Linked DNA regions of Homo sapiens. The protein of the gene in region 2 purifies or fractionates together with the protein of the main gene of each other region. This does not show direct contact. Each region holds a gene or a part of one and is shown on either strand. Other genes may lie near its edges.

Evidence for each region. Proteins that work in one complex are often made in the same cells at the same time.
Region 1: the proteins of PRIMA1 (region 2) and TTC9 purify together in Homo sapiens (affinity purification with mass spectrometry; one large-scale study listed by BioGRID and IntAct). This does not show direct contact.

What each region holds. Positions count from the first base shown.
Region 1 is NC_000014.9:70,640,713-70,644,715, reverse strand, and holds the start of TTC9 (tetratricopeptide repeat protein 9A), read right to left. Parts: upstream 2,801-4,003; 5' UTR 2,587-2,800; coding exon 2,181-2,586; intron 1-2,180.
Region 2 is NC_000014.9:93,785,686-93,789,738, forward strand, and holds the start of PRIMA1 (proline-rich membrane anchor 1 precursor), read right to left. Parts: upstream 2,801-4,053; 5' UTR 2,725-2,800; intron 2,065-2,724; 5' UTR 2,034-2,064; coding exon 1,941-2,033; intron 1-1,940. UniProt on the Homo sapiens protein: Required to anchor acetylcholinesterase (ACHE) to the basal lamina of the neuromuscular junction and to the membrane of neuronal synapses in brain. Also able to organize ACHE into tetramers.

The DNA.
Region 1 (4,003 bases), about 23 Mb from region 2:
CCGTTAGAGCCTTGAATCAAAGTATTCTATTTCTTTCTCCTGGTTACCAGGCCTGAGATCTCCCAAAGGAATTTCCAAAGTGCAAGGCTTTGGAGCCCACCTGAAATTGGGCTCAAGTGAGACAGAGGCCCAGAGGATGCTGACTTTGTGCATCAAAGTATGATGACAAGAACATTGCCTTTGGAGAAGAATGGCTCCGGAGCCTTGAGCTTTTTCTCTGCAAAACTGATGATCATATTTCTTTTACATAGATTATAAAGATTTAAAGAGACAATGTATGGAGGATGCCTAACAGCACACACAATTAATTATTAATATAAGTGGTGAGCACTGGAGAAGGCAGCAGAGGGGGAATATCTGCTATTGCTACTTTCCATTCTCTCACCGTTGAAGTTTTCCAGTGTGTGAGGTGAGGATGGGAGTGGTGGAGCTATCCAGATTTCAGTCCCGCCCTGACTGGGCTGGCCTGACCAAGGACACATCTTTGATTTCACCATGGAAAAGTAACCACGTCTGGGGTGGAGGGCAGGCAGTGCTAGCCACTGGTTGGCAGCCCTAGAATGTCCATGGATAATACTGACTAAATATAAGATTCCATTACCACTCCAAAGTCACCGCATTAGCAATCCACAGTGCCTCGTCCTCCACCCATGGCTGCTCTGCCCTTTAACTATTCATGGGGCAGCAGACAGTATGCCAAAGACTTACAGGAACTAAAGGACTCAAGCTGTATCTTATAATGGATTGAAAGAGTCCATTTTTGCTGTACTACAATTTTATCTGCTACTATTACTGCTAGTATTGCTATTAGCACCACCACTCCTCCAACTGCTGCTACTACTACTCTATTAATCCTTTAAGTCTGTAAAGTACTTTACAATTTACAAAGTGCCTCCGTAGCCTGGGTTTTACCCGATCAAAGATGAGACTGGGCATGGCATTCTGGGAAGACAGAGGTAGGCTGGTACTAGAAACCTCAGAGGGAACAGAGAGATCTGCATTTAAGAACCGAGCAGAATTGCCAGTATTTATTTTTACTCCCCCACCACTGCCTCGGCTTCAGACACATTCACCATTCCCTGCCACACCCAGTCACTCTTCCACCCCTACCCTGCTCTAACTGTCCATAGACAGTTTAGGCAACCTCACATGTCAGGAACTAGGAGGAACTGCCCTTTGTTTGGTCGGAGAAGGTTGACCATGCCAGAATCTCACCAAATGGGGCAAGAGAAGAGGAGAGAATGCTTTTTAAGTTGCCTTTGCCAACCTCTCCCACCTTCTCCCAGGAAGGCCCTAGCAAGAGCCAGACTCTTCTTTTTTTAAGAGACTTTAAATATTCCTGCGCCTAAATTAAACAATTTTTAAATCCCTGATTTTGGCTCTTATCCCCAAAGGGAATGTTGGAATGTACACCTTCTTTGCCCAAGAGTAGGGCCCCCTTTTCCTTCACCCCTAGCAGCCAGCTGGCGTGAGGACTGATGCTACACATAGTGAGAAACGGGCAGGGAGGAGAGGGAGAATGCAGCATAGTTCAAGCCCAACCATGAACCAAGCTTCTTTTGAGATAGAGATCTTCACCTGGCAACCGGGAGCCCCAGCAGAGCTCAGAGAGAAGAAAGTGGCATTCTGGAATCCATTTTGCTCAAGATGCTGAAGGCATGGTGTCAAACTCCCCTTTGCTACTGGGGCCAAAAAACTTGGGGAAGATCTTACCTACAGGGATGCGGTTAGTTGGGGAAAAGGCGAGGACCAATCCTGGTGCTCATGCTACCTAAGGAGAGCAGACAGGTGCGTGGCCTCCCTTGGGACCCACCCGCAGGAAAAAGCTGGGCTAGCGGTGGCTGCGGGGGCCCACCCCGGGCGCTGCTTCCGCATTTTGGACCCAGGTCCACTGGTGAGCAGTAGCAGCAGCAGCCATAGCCAGGCCAGCTGGGTCCCCTTCCAGTCATTTCTAGGTGAGATTTACGATGTATGCTAGCGAAGGGACAAGAGATGATTATGGCCTTTGAAAGGCATAATCCTGAAAGTCACACTTTTTCCAAAGCGCCTCCCTCCCGGGTTCTCCCCAGAGCAACACAGTCACAGCAGGAGAATCTGCACCGCGGGAGCGCCGCAGTGGTCCGCGGAGGGACCGGGCCGAAGAACGGGGACCGCGGCGCGGGGGGCGCGGCGCGGCTCACCTGCCAGGCTGTTGTAACAGTCGATCTCGATGGCTTCCACCGTCTTGCTCTGCTCCTCCGAGAGGCGGCCGGGCTTCAGGGCCCCAGCCGGGGAGGCCGGGCGCGAGTCCCGCTCCCGTTCCCCGGGGGGCGGCAGCAGCCCCTTCAGCTCCAGCAACGCCCGGTGGTATTTGCCTATGGCTTCACGGAATTTCTTGTCCTTGTAGCACTGCGCCCCTTGGCTTTTGAACTCGTGCGCTCGTCGGATGAGCTCGGCCGGCTCGGCCGCCGCCCCGACCTGGCCCCTCGCTGGGGCTCCTCCGCCGCCGCCCGGGACGCACAGCGGCGGCGGTGGCCGCTGCCCCTCTCCGGCCGCGGGCGGGCTCGGGTTCCCCTTGGCCCCGGCCGCCGAGCCCTTTCTCTCCATTCGGCCGCCGCCCCGGCGCCTGGTGCGCGCCGCGATCTGCCCGCCGCCGCCGCCGCCGCCGCGCCTTCCCGGGTTTAAAAGCCGCGGGCGCCGGCCCCGCGCCTCGCAGGCTTCGTGGCGGCCGTGACACCCCGCGGCGGTCTGGCGCCCCGCACTCCCATTCTCCCCGCTGCTGCCAGAGGCTGCTCCAGCCGCCGCCGCCGCCGCCTCGGACGCCGGCCCCTCCCCCGCCTCCCGGCTCCGCGCCGCCCGCTCCCGCCCTCCTCCCTCCGCAACCTGCGGGTGGCGGGGGCCGGTGCTCGCGGGCCCGGGACTAGCGCTGCGGGGGGACCGTGGCCCCGAGTGGGGTGGCGGGGATGGTCGCTGACCCGGAAGAAGCTTGGCTTGCCCGAAGGAGGGGAGGATTAATGACAAAGACGGCCCCGCTCTTTCCCATTCAATCCCGCTCTGCGAGGCGCGCCTAGTCTGAAAGGAGGTGGGGGGAGGGGGGTAGGTGTAGGGGAAGGGGAGTGTGTGTGTGTGCGTGTGTGTGTGTGTGTGTGCGTGCGTGTAGGGATGGGGGGCGGCGGCGACGAAATGCGTGCAGAAATAGATTTCTTAACTACAAGAAAAGGTGCGGCAGGGAACAAGGGGCGCAGGCGCAAGCCGTAGCTGCTAGTTCTTTGCAGTAAGGTGTTAGTATTTTTTAAGGGGGCAGGGCCTCCTTTTTGTGGATCCAGGTTGTCGCTGAGGTGTGTCTCGGTGTGTGTGGTCGCCGGGGCGTCCAGAACGCGACGGGCGGTACAGCGTGTGGGGCGCCGTATTCTGGGAGCCTGTGTATGCGTGTGCTGTGTGCGCGCAGCTGTGCAGGATGAATCACAGACATCAGAGATGGAGAACACCTGTTACTGTGGGTCATCGGCTTGGCGTGCGTCCGGTCTAGTTTCCATTTACAGGACAGTTCTGTGCCCTTCCTCAGGAGGTCCCATTCCTTCCTTCTTTTGGTCGGTTCTGAGTGTCAGCTGTCTACTGGGGATCTGCTAAGGCTAAGAGGCAAAGATAGGCAAGTCACTCCCCTGACCTCAAGAAACTCCCAGTCTACAGGCGAAGATACACCACCCACCGGTAGAGTCGCTGGACCAGGTACAGATGGTGCCTGTCATTGGGGAGGAACGAAAAGTGCTGTGCAGCCCTGAGGGGGGGAGGGAGAGGTAGCTTTTTGAGTAGTGGTAGATCAGGAGGCTTTATGGAGGAAATAGCATTTGAGGACCTTGAAGGCTGGGTAGGATTTGGCATGAAGAAGTAGAAGGAAGTGGCATAGCCGGAGTGAGGAAATCCAGCGGAAGTCCTGATGTTTGAAATCTCAGGTGTGTTTAGGGCATAGTGGTTTGATTTTATAGCCTAATGAGAAGTAGTGGGAAATGACGGGGTTGGATTA
Region 2 (4,053 bases):
ATCCATTCATTCCAAAACCCCTTTCCCTTGATTTCCCTGTCCCTATCATTTGTAAATTAATTTTTCCAGAGCCTCAAGCCAAGATTTTACCCATTCTACTTGTCTGGAGGGTTCCTTTTTAAATTGATTTTTATGAAAATTGATTTGTATTGAGTGAGAGCATCTGAAATACACCCGCACACACACACACCCCTGCACACACACAGACACCCCTGCATACACACACACACACACCCCTGCTTGTGTAAGTACTGCCTGGCTGAAGGACACTTAAAAAACTGAACTGCTTTCACAAAATTATTTCTTCTGGGAGGAGTGCATGGTGCTTGGGGGTCTTCTGTTTAGATCCTACTAGCTTACACAGCAGAATTCTAGTCCTGGAGACTGACAACCTCACTACGTTGCTTCCCACCCCAGGTGAAGGTGTCTTATGGAAGAGAGAAAAGTGTAAACAAATGAATCTAAAAACGAAGTGAACTCAATATCTGAGGTTCAGCTAAAAGTTGAACAAGCGAAGCTGGTCCCAAGCCACTAAAGTGTTTAGAAGTGACAAAATCATGTTTCCTGAGGAGGCACAGCTGAGTTTAATAACTGCTGTTTCACACATTAGACAAAGCTGTCAATTCCAAAAGGAAAACAATTGTGAGACGGAGGCAAGCCAGAGAAGAGAGCAGAAGATGGGGCCTGGGAGTAGGGGGTGCTGAGCAGCGTCTGAACCTGGCTATCGATGGGCAGTCACCCAGGCCATCATCCAGGCAGGACTGACTGAGCAAGCTCTCGGCAGGGCCCCATCATTTGGGGCAGCTCATGGACCTCGGTAGACTGGCAAGTGGTCTTGCCCGCATCCCTTTTTTTCCTGGTCTGTCACCCCTACTAGTACAGAGCAACCATGTGAATTGTCCCCAAACCCCAAAATGCCATCAGGAGCACATGAGGCTACAAATACCCCAGAGTGGATCCTCAATGCCCAAAACAATGAAAATGTCCTCCAGAGCCTGCAGAAAAAATGTCAAACAGACCACGCAGTGATAAACAGAGTACCTGGTCAGCCAGGCAGAAGAACGGCATTGCTATTACTCCTATCAACAATGGCAGCAACCACTACTGGTTAATTTCATCATGGACCTGGCACTGCACTAAGTAATCCTTACATGCATTTATCTCATCAAGTACTTACAATAGTACAGTCAGGAAGAAGAAACTAACTCTCAGAGAGGGTAAGTGGGTTGCCTAAAGCCTCCCAGCTGGTGAGGGACAGAGCTGAAGCTCAAATTCCAGAGCTGACATCGAAGTCCACCTTGTCACCTCTCCACTGTACCAGTGACGATGCGCATTCTGGGGGGGACTAGGGACCACCCCATTGAAACCCCTCTCTGACCCTAAGAGGTAACTCCAGTTAGTGGCTGCCTGGCCTCTGCCCTGGGATTTAAGGGACCCAGGGTGAGAGATTCAACCCTGGGCAGTCCTGACAGATGGGCCACCATGCATTATCTGTCTACATCCTCAACTCTGATACCTATAAGAAACACGGCTGCCTTCCGTGTTGAAAACCAGTTTAAGAAAGCTAATTTGAAGTTCATCAGTGGTTCTGGTGAGAAAGAAATAATATATATCCTTGGGATCATTTTTCTTTGTAAGTTTGTTTCTTTGCTGAATTTCTGCCCTAGAATGTTATCATTGGAAGGTATTCTCTGAGCCCCTTTCCATTCCAAGGCCAGCCCGGTCCTGCAGGATTTAGGCCACAATCGAAGCCTCTCTTTGGAGTTTCTTATCTTTTCAGGGGTAGGGTATAGGGGACCGTAGCAGCTTTTCTTTTCCCAAGCTCTTCCGAGAACCAATCAGTGGGGTGGCTGCAAGAGGCCAGGGTCTCAGGAGGGAAGGGACAGCTCGCCCCTTACCCAGGAGGCCCTCCCAGCCAGTGCGCAGCCGGCGCGTCTCACCTGCACGAAGCCCCAGAGCGGGTGGAGCGCGCAGTGCAGCAGCAGCGAGGACCAGCAGCAGCCACGGCGCAGCACCAAGTCCCGGAGGAGCATCTCGGCCAGCGGCGCCCGCTCCTGGGGCGAACTGTCAGGAGAGCAAGGCTAGGGTCAGGCGGACACCGCGCAGGCACTTCCGCCGCCGCGCACCAATATACCTCCCAGCCCGGGTCGGACGGGCACGCCCCGCACCCAGGGGCACCCTAGTAAACCAAGCCTGCACTTACACTCCAGCTTACACCTTCACTGACTCTTCGTCAGTCCCAGAATTCACACTCTTCTTACGCACATCCCCAGAGCCCCGCGTGTACACTTTAGCTCCGCGCACAGCTCCAGAATACTGCGTGCATACCTTGGCCCCATGGACACCTCCAGAAACAGCCAAGCACACTTACTGCGCCCCATTAACCCCCATACAACTCACTCTCACTGTGAGCACACTTCAAACCCGGCGGGCACTACTCACCTGCGCGCACAACCACAGAAACAGCCGTGCACACACACTGATCCCCGTGCACACCCACCGACTCCTGCCTGCACCCTCGCTGACCCTGCATGCACGGCCCCAAGAAATCTCACGCTGCCTGCACCCACACTGCCCAGCCGGCCTCATTGCGCACACTGCAACATAGGCACCTCCGTGCGCTGCCCCTTTGCACGCCTCCGCCCAGCCCCGATCTCCCGCTCCCGGGCGTGGGTTCCCCCACGCCTCCATCTCCGCCCGCACCCTTCCAACGCCTCACGCTACCTTGCCTGGCGGCGGCCCCAGCCGACCCTGGGCTCGGGGAAAAGAGGTCCGCGTTCCCCCCGCGGCAGCTCTGTTTCCCAGCAGCCGGACAGCCCCCATTTAAAGCCAGCCGCCTCCCCAGTCCCCCGCCCTCTAGGCGGGGCCTCCGTCCTCACCTTGGCGGCTGCGCGGGCGCCCGGGGGCTTCACATGCCGGGGAGGAGCGCCCGGCGCTGGAGCAAAAGTTTGCGCGCCGGTTGGGCCTCCCGGGCCGCTGAGCAGAGGACCAGGAGCGGCGTCCTCGCACGGGGCGCAGGGCGCGGTGGCTCCGGACTGCGCCTAGCCGCGCGCGGGGCGGGAGGGGCGGCACCCCGCTCCCAGGGCCAGGGCTGGCCGCCGAGGCGGAGGCAGAGGGCGGGGAAAGTCTCCTCCACGCCGCCTGGAGCCGGCCGCGCGAGCCCTCCCCGGGCCCGCGTTGGCTCCCCGCCTTTCCTGGTGGCGCCGCGCGGCTGCCCGGGGCACTGGGGTGCCCGAGCTCTCTACTACCCTCACGCTGGCCCGCGAGAGGCAGCGGCGGGAGGCGCCGGCAGGGAGCTCCCGCTGGGGCAGCAAAGCCGTGGGTGGAGGCGAAATAAATAATCCACGAAAAAGGAAAACAGACGTGAGCCGAGCCAGAGCCTCTCCCGCCTCCCGCCCGGGGTTGCGCTCCCCCCGCCGCCGCCGCCAGCGCCGCTGCAGTGATTCCTCGTCTCCATCTAGCGAGGCTATTGTGTATTGGGCGCTTAATTATTTATTCACCCTGGAGGCCGAGGATTCCCACTTCCATGGGGTTTTGGCCCTTGCCTGCGCTTCCCCCAAGCCTCTCCCGAGGCTGCGGAAAGGTGGCGAGGACTGACTTGAGACCCTTTTTTGCGCTCCATCCTTGAGGACTCTCCCCGCCGCACTCCCCGCAGGCTCTCCCGGGCGCCGGGGCTGAAAGGTGCAGGCCGCCCCTCTCCCGGCCATGGGCCTTGTCCTCTCCTTTGTAGTCCCAGCAGCAGAAACTCTCTTGCAACACTAGGCTGCGGCTGGGAAGGAGTTGTGACGGCCCTGGGGAGAACATTTCTACCACTGCTCTTCCTCAACCATCTGCAAACTCCTCTGTTTGAGGCAAGATTATCAACAAGTCGGTTCTTCGGGAGGTAGCCTGGTTGCATCTCTTTCAGACAAGCTGTGCCTAGCAGCATCACAGGCATGGCGCGGCCTCTCTGCTCTTGTGGTGGAAGCACTTTGCAAGCGCTTTGACTGATGGGGGCGCCTTCCAGAAGGCCCTCAAGGCCTGGACAATCCTATTTTTAGGTTGGATGAGAGA